Linked DNA regions of Homo sapiens. The protein of the gene in region 2 interacts with the protein of the main gene of each other region in a pairwise test. Each region holds a gene or a part of one and is shown on either strand. Other genes may lie near its edges.

Region 1 (3,752 bases), on a different chromosome or scaffold from region 2:
GACTGTACTACTCTCCACCAATAAGAGAGGAACATACAGATTCACTAAGAAGAACTAGAAAAAAAAATCTTCATTAAATTAAGGAACTAAGTTACTAGGCAGGCAGTCTATCCCCGCAAAAACTGTGGCCACTTTACCAAAACATTATAAAACGGTTTATGGTTACACACCCGGGTGCATGTTGCAGGTTGGAACAAAGCCAACAGAAGCTGTGAAGAGCACCCATGACTAGTCATATTAACAACCCACACAATGATTTCTCTTCTTCTATCATTGTCACTAAACAAGAATAAAATGTATTGGGGGGAAAAAATCTGATTTTAAAATCACAACATTCCAATAAATGATCATTTGAAAGGACACTGGCTAGGGATAGATTAAAGGAATTTTTTTTAAATCCCCAACTCACAGTCAACTGTACAATGAACCTCCCAACTCTCACCTTGTTTTAACTATGTGGTAAAAACACACAAGCGTAATCAGGATTCACTGGTATTTCCCAAAATTGCTGAATGCCCAATTTCCAAATGTCTCTTTTTGACCAAGAGTAGAAATGGTGGCCCCCGTGGTAGCCAGAGAAAGTAAACTGACTAACATGTCTGGGCACGTGTGTGACTAAATATATATACACATCCATGAATGTGGAGTGTCTACAAAAGGATTGAAGATAAATCTTGGCATTTTATTCATTAAACTTCACCCAAGGATTGTAGTCAACAAGCAAAAACTGTGCAAGATTAAAAGCCTGAAGAAGAATACACAAATATTCTTATTTCTAAAATGAGTATGATTTCCTGTTGAAAAATACAAACAGCATCAAAATCAATGTACTAACAAAAGTCATTACAATGAGATGTGATATCATAAGTAACATAAAAGAACTTAGCAGAAACTGAGACAATAATCTACCATCCATCATCCATCATCCATCTGGCAGCTTCCCCTATACTCAAACTAAATGGAAACACTCCACCCCAACCCCAACTCCGCTGTGGTCCATAAGGCCCTGCTGACCTGGTTCCTTGGCTGCTATCTCCTGTTCCTCACAAGGGCAGGTTCTGCCTGTCACAGGGCCTTTGCATGGGCCATCCTCAATGCCCAGAGACCTTGCAGAGGTCATTTTATAAATAAGAATTTTTAAAATAAATACTCGTTTTATAAATAAGAATATTTGTGTATTCTTCTTCAGGCTTTTAATCTTGCACAGTTTTTGCTTGTTGACTACAGTCCTTCGGTGAAGTTTGATGAATAAAATGCAAAGACTTATCTTCAAACCCTTTTGTAGACACTCCACATTCATGGATGTGTATATATATTTAGTCCCACACATGCCCAAACATGTTGCCTTCTTTTCACTGAAGTCAGCTCTAAAGTCCTCAGTAAAGCCCTCCCAGACCACCAAGCCCAGATGGAAAAGTGGCCCCCATTCTCGACTGCACTTATTACTGCCTTAAATTCGCTTTTCATTTATTCATTTAATTTATTATCTATTTTCCCACTTTACACAATAAAGCCTCAAAGAGGAAGGAACCTTGTCTTTCCTGACTGATGTTTATTCAAAGTACCTGGCACACAATACGTCCTCTATCAATATCTGTTTAATATAATCATCATAGTAGAGGAACTTAGTAAACTATGTTCTTTTGCATAATTACTTATTTTTTATTTATATTAAGTTCCAGTTAATGGGACAAAAAAAAAATCACTGGCGAGAATGATCGTTTTGAAGGCTATATGTGATTCCTCCTAAAAAATAAAATTAAAAAGATGAAATAAACTTCTAATGGGGCTGTGAGGAAAAAAATGTTTTGCATTACAACACAACCACTCAAAAATTTCCCATATGTCTGTGAATTGTATTTTTAAAAGCCTCATCTGGAACTGGACAATTTCAAAACCCATTGATCTTGCCCTGATGTATAAAACATACCACAGAATTCTTCTGATTCTTCCAGAAACCTGTCTACCAAATGACATACTGTTTCCTTTTGCTTAGGTATTCATTTTTGAACTTCTCTCTAAAGTGTTTACAATTTTAAAGTCATAGATTTAATGCCGGTTTAAAACTGTTTAATCATCCACATGTTCACTATTTTTATCACCAAACATACTGAGCAAAGAAAGTAATTTGCTTCACCTACTAAAGTTTCCTTTAAAACAACAACAACAACAACAAAAAACAAGGCTTATGTCTTTGAATGCCAGTTTCTTATGGGAGTTTCCTTATGAGACGAACTGTAAAATGTGAAAAACGTAAAAATCTCACTCAATCCCTTCTTCCCATAAGTATAAGGAAATCTAAGATGTCAAAATGACATAGGCATGATTTAAGTTCATTAATTTTATATTACAAAAGGATCATTCAGAAACAAACTCAGGTTGTTTTAAAACAGGATGAAAAAGAATTCTGCAACAGTGGAGAAGCCTTATATCTTAATTATCTGTAATCGTTTGGATGTTAACATTCACAAAGAATGAAAAACTAAGTTTCCTACAACTATTCCCCAAAATCTTTCATGCAAATCATCCCATAACTTATCCTTTCAAAGTCTAGAGTTAATGCTACATTTAGCTTCTTTGAGAAACACTTTGGGTATAATATGTGTTTTCTTCTGAACAATTCCCAAATATTACATTTTTGTATTTCTATAATGTTTTCAGTACAAAAAAATCAACATTAAAAAATTATATTAGGCTCTGCCTAAAGTCTAAAATAAAATAAATGAATATATGAAATGAAGATTTGATTCAATGTTTCCAAAATCATCATAATCCCCTCTGATGTACTTAAGTGATCAAAATGAATAAACCTCCTTTAACCTAAGGGAAAGAAAGTCACTTGGCATAGGGGGAGCTGTGCTGCTCTCAGAACACCTGAGCAACGAAGCCAAAAACAGACCCAACATTCTTTATTACTTCTAAATCTAAGACATTTTTATCAGAGTCTACATAGTTCAAAGAAGCTAAATGTGCCATCTCTCTCCTCAACCTTCCTAAAACAAGTGATCTTTAACAAGGTATTGTGAAATCTTAAAAGGTTTCCCCTGAAAACTAAAAGTGGCGTACCTTTTCTCATTTTAGACTCTTTGATAATCAAATGTTAACCACAAAATTCAAAGTATGTCAATGAGTTATAGAGAAGAGATTTGTTGACATCAAACCTGAAAAGAAGGTATGAAACACAAACACTTCCAGCAACTGAATGTACAAGGCAGAAGTTATTCCTCCTGGCATGACAGAAAGATTCATGGGGTCTGGAGACACACACACCTTGCTACATATTAGCTATGTGACTCAGATAAGTCACTTCCCTTCACTTGTATTATAGAAAGGGGATAACAGCACCTACTCTCTCTTAGAGGAGACACCACACCCACCATCAACCATCGAGGATTTTGCTGGTCCCAGAGCCAGCCCTTAGAGATAACTGTTATTATGAACCAGAAAATCCTTTTTCTGAGTGTACTAGATTTCTAGCCTTGGTGTCTGTACTGAATAGAATGAATGTATTTTTCTTGGATGAGTCATGACTTTGCAACACTTCAGTCTTCATCCTGAATATCAATTCTCACTGCATCATACCAGGAGCCAGAAGAATGATGCAAATCAAAGTAAATGAGAATTGGCCCTAGGAAGTTGTTTTCTTAAATAAATTCAAGATGCAAGTAGGTTTCTGATCATTTGTTTCTCTCTCCTAAAAAGTTAAGTATGAAAAAAAGTTCAGATTAGTTGGAGATCTCTAGGCTCAGCTG
Region 2 (3,752 bases):
CACATCAACTTAGTGGATAGCAGTGGCAGAGTTTGAGAATAGCCTCCAACTTTGAAAGAATTTTCACTGTGGTTAAAATGCTATCAAAACAGCATCACATGCTACAAAGAAGTCTTTCATGAAAGGAGGAGTCCATCAATGCAGTAAATTTCACTGTTGTCTTATTTTAAGTAACTGACACAGCCACCACCACCCTGATCAGTCAGCAGCCATCCACACTGAGGCCAGATTGTCAAAGTATAAAACAAGCAGGACTCACTAAAGGCTCAGATGATCATTAGTATTTTTAGCACTAAAATATTTTTTAATTAACGTAAGCACATTTTTATAGATATAATGCTTGCTATTGCACACTTTAAGTAGTATACTGTAATTACAACTTTCATATGCACTGAAAAACCTAAAACTGTTGCGTCACTTGCTTTACTGCAATACTTATTTTACTGCGGTGGTCTGGATTAGAACTCGAATTATCTGAGGTACGCCTGTGTACAAGGACAGGATTCACAAATCACTCTAAGTAAATTAAGCAGAGTGATGAAAGGCTCATTGGGGTCAGCCTGCCATCTTCCAAATTATGACTAAATGCAAGAGCATCACCAATAACTATACTGGCAGAGGTTCACATTTCACCTCGATTCTTCCTTATGTTTAGAGAAAGCCTATTTTTCAGTATGCCAGGAAAAATCATGAAAGTAGACCTAACTAAAGCTGGGGGTTTCTTTCATCCTGAAGAGGAACCACTTCCTAAGGAAAAATCATCTACTGTTTTAAAAAGCAAACTCTCGTAGAGTTGGAAGAGAACCCCACACACAGGTGGAACACCCCCCAGGGCTGCGGCCCCGCCGTGGCGCTCAGCCTGGCCTGCCCTGGGCCCGACCTCAGGACGCCGCCATTCCCGGACCCTCGGGCCTCCCGTCAGGAATCCGCCATCGGAACGGAGGCCCTAACTGGTCCCGTCGCAGAGCCACTGTCCAAATAAGGCATTTCGAGAGCCACGAGGATGACATAAAGCAGACTCCGCGTTTCTTCATTTTTCGTTAAGTGACACGATTTCCCTCACAAGGAAGGTGCAAACCCACAGGGCGCCCAGACCCTGCCCGGCACTTCCTGTCATCCATTACCACGACCCGTGTGACAGAAGCGGCTCTTCCCACCAATTCCCGGGACGCCGGAACCGCTTCCCCAGCACCCGGCCCCAAACACTGCCGTCAGCGAGCGGCCCTGGGCTGCTCCCGCGCCGGCGCCCGGCTGAGGGCCACGAGCCCCATCACGCCCACCGCCCCCAGGACCCCGACCCACCCGCTCGCCACGGCCGAGGCCGGGGCCGGGGTCGCGGCCGCCATCTTCCCGCCTGCGCCGCCGCGCGCCCCGCACCCTCCGAGCAGCCCCGCCGGCCCTGAGGACTCCGCGAGGCCGCGGACCCGACCGGCCCCACGCGCGCCGCCCGCCCCGGCCCCGCCCCGCCGCGCGCCCCCGACCCTCACGCCCGCCGCCCCGCCCGCGCCGGGCTCCGCGCGCCCCCGCCCCGCGCCGGGGCGCGCGCCGCACTCCGAAAGGGACGGTTAGGAGCGCGCGCTTCGATCAGGCCCAGCGCGGCGGCGGCGGCGCCTTCCAGAAATTTCCGCGTCCCTCAACCCACACTAAGAAACCAACTGGGCGCGCCCCCGCGCCGGTTGGGCTGAAGGCGCCCCCTCCCCCGCGGGTGCCCGCTCCCCTCCCCCACCCGCGCCCCCTCCCCGCCCCCTGCCCCGGGCGGCGGGTCAAATGCGGGCCCTCGAGGGCAGCGCCGGCCCTCCAGACCCGGGCGGCAGCGGCGGCGGCGGGCGGCGGCCGCGGGCCGGTGTGATTGATAGGGACGGCGGCGGCGAGAGCGGCGGCGGCGGCGGCGGAGCGGTTGAGTGACAGCTTACCTGGGTGCCAATCTTCATCACACTGACAAGCGGCTGCAGCAATCGGGACCCGCAGTGCCGCGCCCGCGTCCAACCGTCACGCCGACGCTGGGCCACGCGACACAGCCTCGCTCAATGGGAGGAGGGCGACGCCGACGCGCGCCGCATCAATATTCAGAGAGGGGGCGGGGCCTGCCGGAGACGGGCCCCGCCCCTCCCTGCGCGGCGGCGGGCGCGGGGCGGGGCCTGATCGCTGGGGGAGGAGAGCGAGGGCGGGAACCGGGCGGTGGCCGGCCCCGCCTCCAGCCCCGCCCGCACCCGGAGCTAGGCCGTGCCCCCAACCGGCCGCGCCCGAGCGCGAGGAGCTGTCTGCCCCGCCCCGAAGGCAGAGCCTCCCGCCTTATGACTATGCAGTAGGGGCGTGGCCTCAGCGCACGTCTTGCCCCCTCCGCGCCCTCGGTTGCCGCCCAGGAGAGGTGTGTGTAGCCGGGCGAAACCATTTGCCTCGAGCAGGCGGGGAGGGAGGGCTGTACCATCCGTAACCCCACCGCCGGGCGTCCCGTAGCCGAAGGCCTCCGTTCTGTGTGTGCCCGGTTTGAATGTAAGCCCGTGGGAGCCTCGCAGCCTTCCTCCCCAGGCTCTGGAGCCCGGGTGGGCCCGTCCTGGGCGGCACAGTGGATGCTCACGTGCCTCCCCCCCTGCGGCAGCGCGAGTGCTTAGCACCTGAGGCTTTACCCTGGGGGCTGTCTTCCCTCTGTGAGGACCCCAGCAAGGACTCATGATGTCCACAGGTGCTTAGGGGTGGCCTCTGGGCTACTTGGCCTCGCTTGACCACACCTTCCGGCCCAGGTGAGCCTTGCGGGTCTAGGTGACCAATGCGGCCTCCAGGTAAAGGGCACCTGCCTTAGGGGACGCCCACAAGTGTCTGCATTTCAAACTGCTTTGAAAGACCACCCTAACCGACCACTGCCACAATGTACCCACAAGTGCAGATGGTGGCTTTGGTCTCCAAGATGTAAGGAAAGGGCGACACATTCCCCACTGCGTAGGAAAGCACACGGTTTGCCTGACTGGCCTTCAATACTGCAGAAACATCCATTTATGCAGTGGCCCACCGAAGGCCATCAGTGCCTTGAGTCCATACACAGCGCGGGAAGGGCAGCTCTGTGGGCCCCCACTCCTCCCGGAAGGCAGACAGGCCCAGGACTGGAGCTGATTGCTAGAGGGAGCCTGGGGGTAGGTCTAGGCATGAACAGCTCGGAGGACATCCCTCCTGTGTCTTCAGAGCTCCACACCGCCAGGAGGTCTTGGCCAAGTGCTGTGCAGCTGCAGAGCCGCCTCTTTCAGAAAGATGGGAAGCAGCAGGGTGGGCAAGAGGGAGGCCCTGAGATACTTGCCCAAGGAGGGAAGTTCAAGGGGACAAAAAAAGCTCAGTATTCAAGACTGAGCATAATCTGCAGAGCCTAGTGCAAGATCCAGATGCAAGTGTCAATAGGTGTTGGAACAGAGAGACTCCACATGGGCTGGGTAAACTGAAGCTGAGACCTGCTGGGCCGCACCCCCCAGGAGTTAAGGCGTTCTTAGTAATCGGATGAGATAGGAGGTCGGAACAAGACACAGGTCACAAGGATCCTGCTGATAAAACAGGATGCAGTAAAGAAGCCGGCCAAATCCCACCAAAACCAAGATGGCGGGGAAAGTGACCTGTGGCCTTCCTCACTGCTGATTATACACTAATTATAATATATGAGCTTGGTAAAACACACTCTCGCCAGCGCCATGACAGTTTTCAAATGCCATGGCAACGTTTGGAAGATACCCTACATTGCCTAAAAGGGGTCGGGCGCAGTGGCTCACGCC
Region 3 (3,752 bases), on a different chromosome or scaffold from region 2:
ATACCTCAGGGTAGAGTACAAAATAAAGTGATGACTGACTTAGGGTGTGGTTCACGAAATGCAGTTTCAATTCTTATAGTCCCACTTCATATAATGTAACTTCATCCTATACCATGCCACTATAAAGTATCAAAATATAAATAATCCAACTAATACGTTAATTTAAATTTGCCTCAGAAGTAACCTTTTACAAAATTTATAAATTGAGATGGAAATATACAGGCAAAATTAATTAAAAGGAAAAGCATCATAGTATGAAAAATGTAGACAAGTACATTTTATGAAAGCCGATCAACCAGTGTGCTCTTTGGGGCAAGTCGGGGCCTCCTTTGCTAGTGTATTAAAAGACTTCTAATTCAGAATAAAATTATGTAAATTAATAAAATAACATAGTAAAGTCCCAAATAAAATACCAAAACTATTCAAATCTGTAATAAAATGAGGGTCATTAAAACTAAGGAACAAAAGAATTACTTGCACAGATCAAGTTAGTATTGACAAGAGAGTTCAATACATTTTTATTGGGAAGAAAAAAATAAAGAACAGGATTGGAAAATGTCTCTATATTTTAAAGATAATATCCACATGATACTTTAGATCATGAGGTTCTAAACCAGCTTGGCAATGAGATTTTTCTCCAGGTTTTCTACAAATGTATTATATGTGCTATTTTGTTAGGATGGAAATGGAAGAATAAAGAAGTAGAAAAATCCCTTTCTTTTACAACTTCTCTGAAAACCTCCTACAAAAGCTCCAGTAAGATACCAAATCTATAAAAATAGAAAAAAAAAAAGGTAAAATATTAAGTTAAGAAAAATATATTGATAAAGCAATATAATTTATAACATTTCCAAGATACTCTGACTTTGTATTTTTCCTGTTTAATCACTTAATATTTCCAATATAAGCAGACCTAATGCTTAAAATTGATATGAAACTTAAAACATTAAAGAACCATTAAAATTTGCTTCAAAATAATTTTGGAATGGTGGGAATTACAGAGAAAACACGACTGGCCAAGTATTGCTAATTGCTGAAGATGGGCACTGAGTTCATGGGAGGTTCAAGAGTCTCTGCTCTCTGCATGTTATGTTTCAAAGGTGTCCACAATAAAAAGTTGTTAAAATCTTGAAAATAAGTTCATTAAAACAAAATGTGTTTCATGAAAACACAAAAAGGAATCATGTATGGAACAGTGCATTTGTTTTTAAAACTTGAAACAAAAGATGATAATTATATTGGAAATAGTGCAAGAGCAACTTAAAAGCATATGCAAAATATATAATAACATTTAGACTAATATATAACAATTTTCACCTTTCTTGCTAAATTTTCACTTGAAAAAATTGATTTTTACATATGTAGAATTAAAAGAATCACACAGCACTGTACAAAGAAAAATGTAACAGATTTTTATATTGAAACCTTAAAAAGAGAAGCACACCAAAAAAAGACTCCAAAGAGTCTCTAAACCTGTGGGTTCACAATTAAATAGAGAGGTGTCGAATGACAGTACTGCCTTGTCTCTTTGAAAGCTAGTCACACTTCTAGCAATAAAGATAAAAGGTTTAATCTCACATCATATACTAAATGCACATAAAACCTCACTTGTAAACTATACTCTTGATCTAGTTTTAATATCTAAAATTCTTATGACTCTTTCTAGGGAGGGTTCCTTTAAAAGTAAGGCATTTTTACTAGTCATTTTCTTCTCCTTAAACATAAAAAATACTTCAACCAGCCCAACCAACCAAGCAGGCCTTTCTCTTCCCCTGCGGACACCTCCTGCAGTAGAGAAGTTCATTAAGTTTTATGATCTTCCCAAGTCAGTCCTACTTATAAGCCTCACAAAGGCTACAAATCTGGCAAACCATCATGTATGCCATTAGACATTACTAGTAAATGAACGCTATTTAGGGTTTGTGGTGGCAATAAATCAGAGTTTGGTTGGCAGCCATCAACATGGAGTATTTTAACCTATTATTTGAAAAGGAAAAGGTTGTGTTTATTTTTTTTCATGCATAACATTTTTCACAATAATGTGATTCATATTATCTACTAAAATGTGGGATTTCATTTAAAAAATAAATATTTTTTTCTTGAAAAAGAACTATTTCCTTCACTTAAACTCGCACAATTAAGGGCTTTGGAAAGAAGACAAGATTTTTCAGGATGAAATATTTCACAAAGGAAAGCACTTCAACAATTAAGATTAAGATGACCAAAAAGAGGTGGGGGCATACACCAAAAGAGGTATGCAGGTGAGCAGACCTTGTGGCATCAGGGATATTTAATAAGAGACAGATGATAAAATATGGCTTTAAAAATCAGGAGAAAAATCTTAACATATCAACAATAATCTCACTGGTTACTTGGTTTAAAATAAACAACTATTTTTATTTTAAAGCCTACAACTTTTTGGGTGCTCTCAAAATGCACAAATATCACAATTCAACAATGAGAGACATTTCTGCCCAAAAATAATGGTATGATCAATTTTACGAAAGAATATATTCTCAAGAAAAAGCAGCATCTTATAGTAGAAGTATACTTTCCTTACCTCTCAACAAGAAAATAATATAATTGTAGTAGATTACCCATTTATCTGTCAGAAGGGAAAAATACCTTTTCATATATGGTAGAGGGGGAAACAGATGTTTTCTAAACTAAATCCCCCATGTGCATAAGAACTGGCAGTGTTCACTGCCTGATCAGAAACCTCAAAATCCACTGGCAGAGCTACAAATAAACAGATTTTTTTTAAAATGATTTTGTTTTGTTTTAGAAGAAAAGCACAACTGAAATGACATTATCCACTGAAATGACAGTTCACCCTCAACCCCCTTCATTAAGCAGAATAGAGTCATCAACATAATGTTTCTGGTTTCTATTCATAAATGACTAGGTAAACTTTCTCTAAATTACAAAGAATTAATTTTTAGGTATTATTAGATTAAATAAAATGATTTTTAAAAAATATTTATGCAATATACATATATTCTACAATGTTTCTTTTATAAGTTCATGTTTCTAAAGCATGACCGACTATGGAAGCAGGAGTGGGGGGGCTTGGAATTTGCAGCCCCGCTTTCTTTGCTTTGGTAACACTAATGTCTACACAGCTGTTTTATTTCGAATTGAGGATTCTGAGTCCCTGTCTCATTCTAAGACTAGTTTTGGAGAGTGAGGTGAAGCTATGGGTAGTAGGGGAGAATGGAAAGAAGAGAAAGAGCTTCACCCCCATCAATCACTCAGTACTTAAATCCCATCCCTCTCGAGCTTAGAGAGGCTAGCAGGAAGATGCCTCTACCCAGACAGCCGCCTTTACTCTTTGTCGGCTGTTGGCTTTTTACAAAAGAGATAACGTGCAAATGTGGATCCACTGGCCAAAGCACAAAAAGAGAATCTAATTTACAAGTTATCACTGAAAGCCCCAGAAACAATTTTAAAACACAAAAATTTCTTTTGTCAGCTGCCTCTTGGTTTTTAAATAGCAATAGCCCTACCAAAGCTCTCTCTGCCAGTAATCCCAGACTTTGAAAAGATTTGTTTCTTTTTCGTAACTCACCTTTGACATGTGGTTGACTATACTTTCCTTTCAGAATGGTGTAACTAAGTCCTGTGCAAATAAGCAACTAAAGGACTTATGCTTCCTAATTGAATTCTGCCTGCTGCTAAATGTCTCAACATGAAAAGCAGTTTGCTGGGTTTAGTTCTCAAGCTAGCTAGGCCAAAACTTTAAAAAGGCAAAA

Evidence for each region.
Region 1: the proteins of PKNOX1 (region 2) and FAM110B interact in binary tests that used the Homo sapiens proteins (3 or more experiments, as listed by UniProt).
Region 3: the proteins of PKNOX1 (region 2) and PBX3 interact in a two-hybrid assay, tested with the Homo sapiens proteins (2 studies listed by BioGRID and IntAct).

What each region holds. Positions count from the first base shown.
Region 1 is NC_000008.11:57,997,469-58,001,220, reverse strand, and holds part of FAM110B (protein FAM110B), read right to left. Parts: intron 1-3,752. UniProt on the Homo sapiens protein: May be involved in tumor progression.
Region 2 is NC_000021.9:42,972,826-42,976,577, reverse strand, and holds the start of PKNOX1 (homeobox protein PKNOX1), read right to left. Parts: upstream 2,017-3,752; 5' UTR 1,914-2,016; intron 1,438-1,913; exon of another isoform or gene 1,303-1,437; intron 1-1,302. UniProt on the Homo sapiens protein: Activates transcription in the presence of PBX1A and HOXA1.
Region 3 is NC_000009.12:125,750,327-125,754,078, reverse strand, and holds part of PBX3 (pre-B-cell leukemia transcription factor 3), read right to left. Parts: intron 1-3,752. UniProt on the Homo sapiens protein: Transcriptional activator that binds the sequence 5'-ATCAATCAA-3'.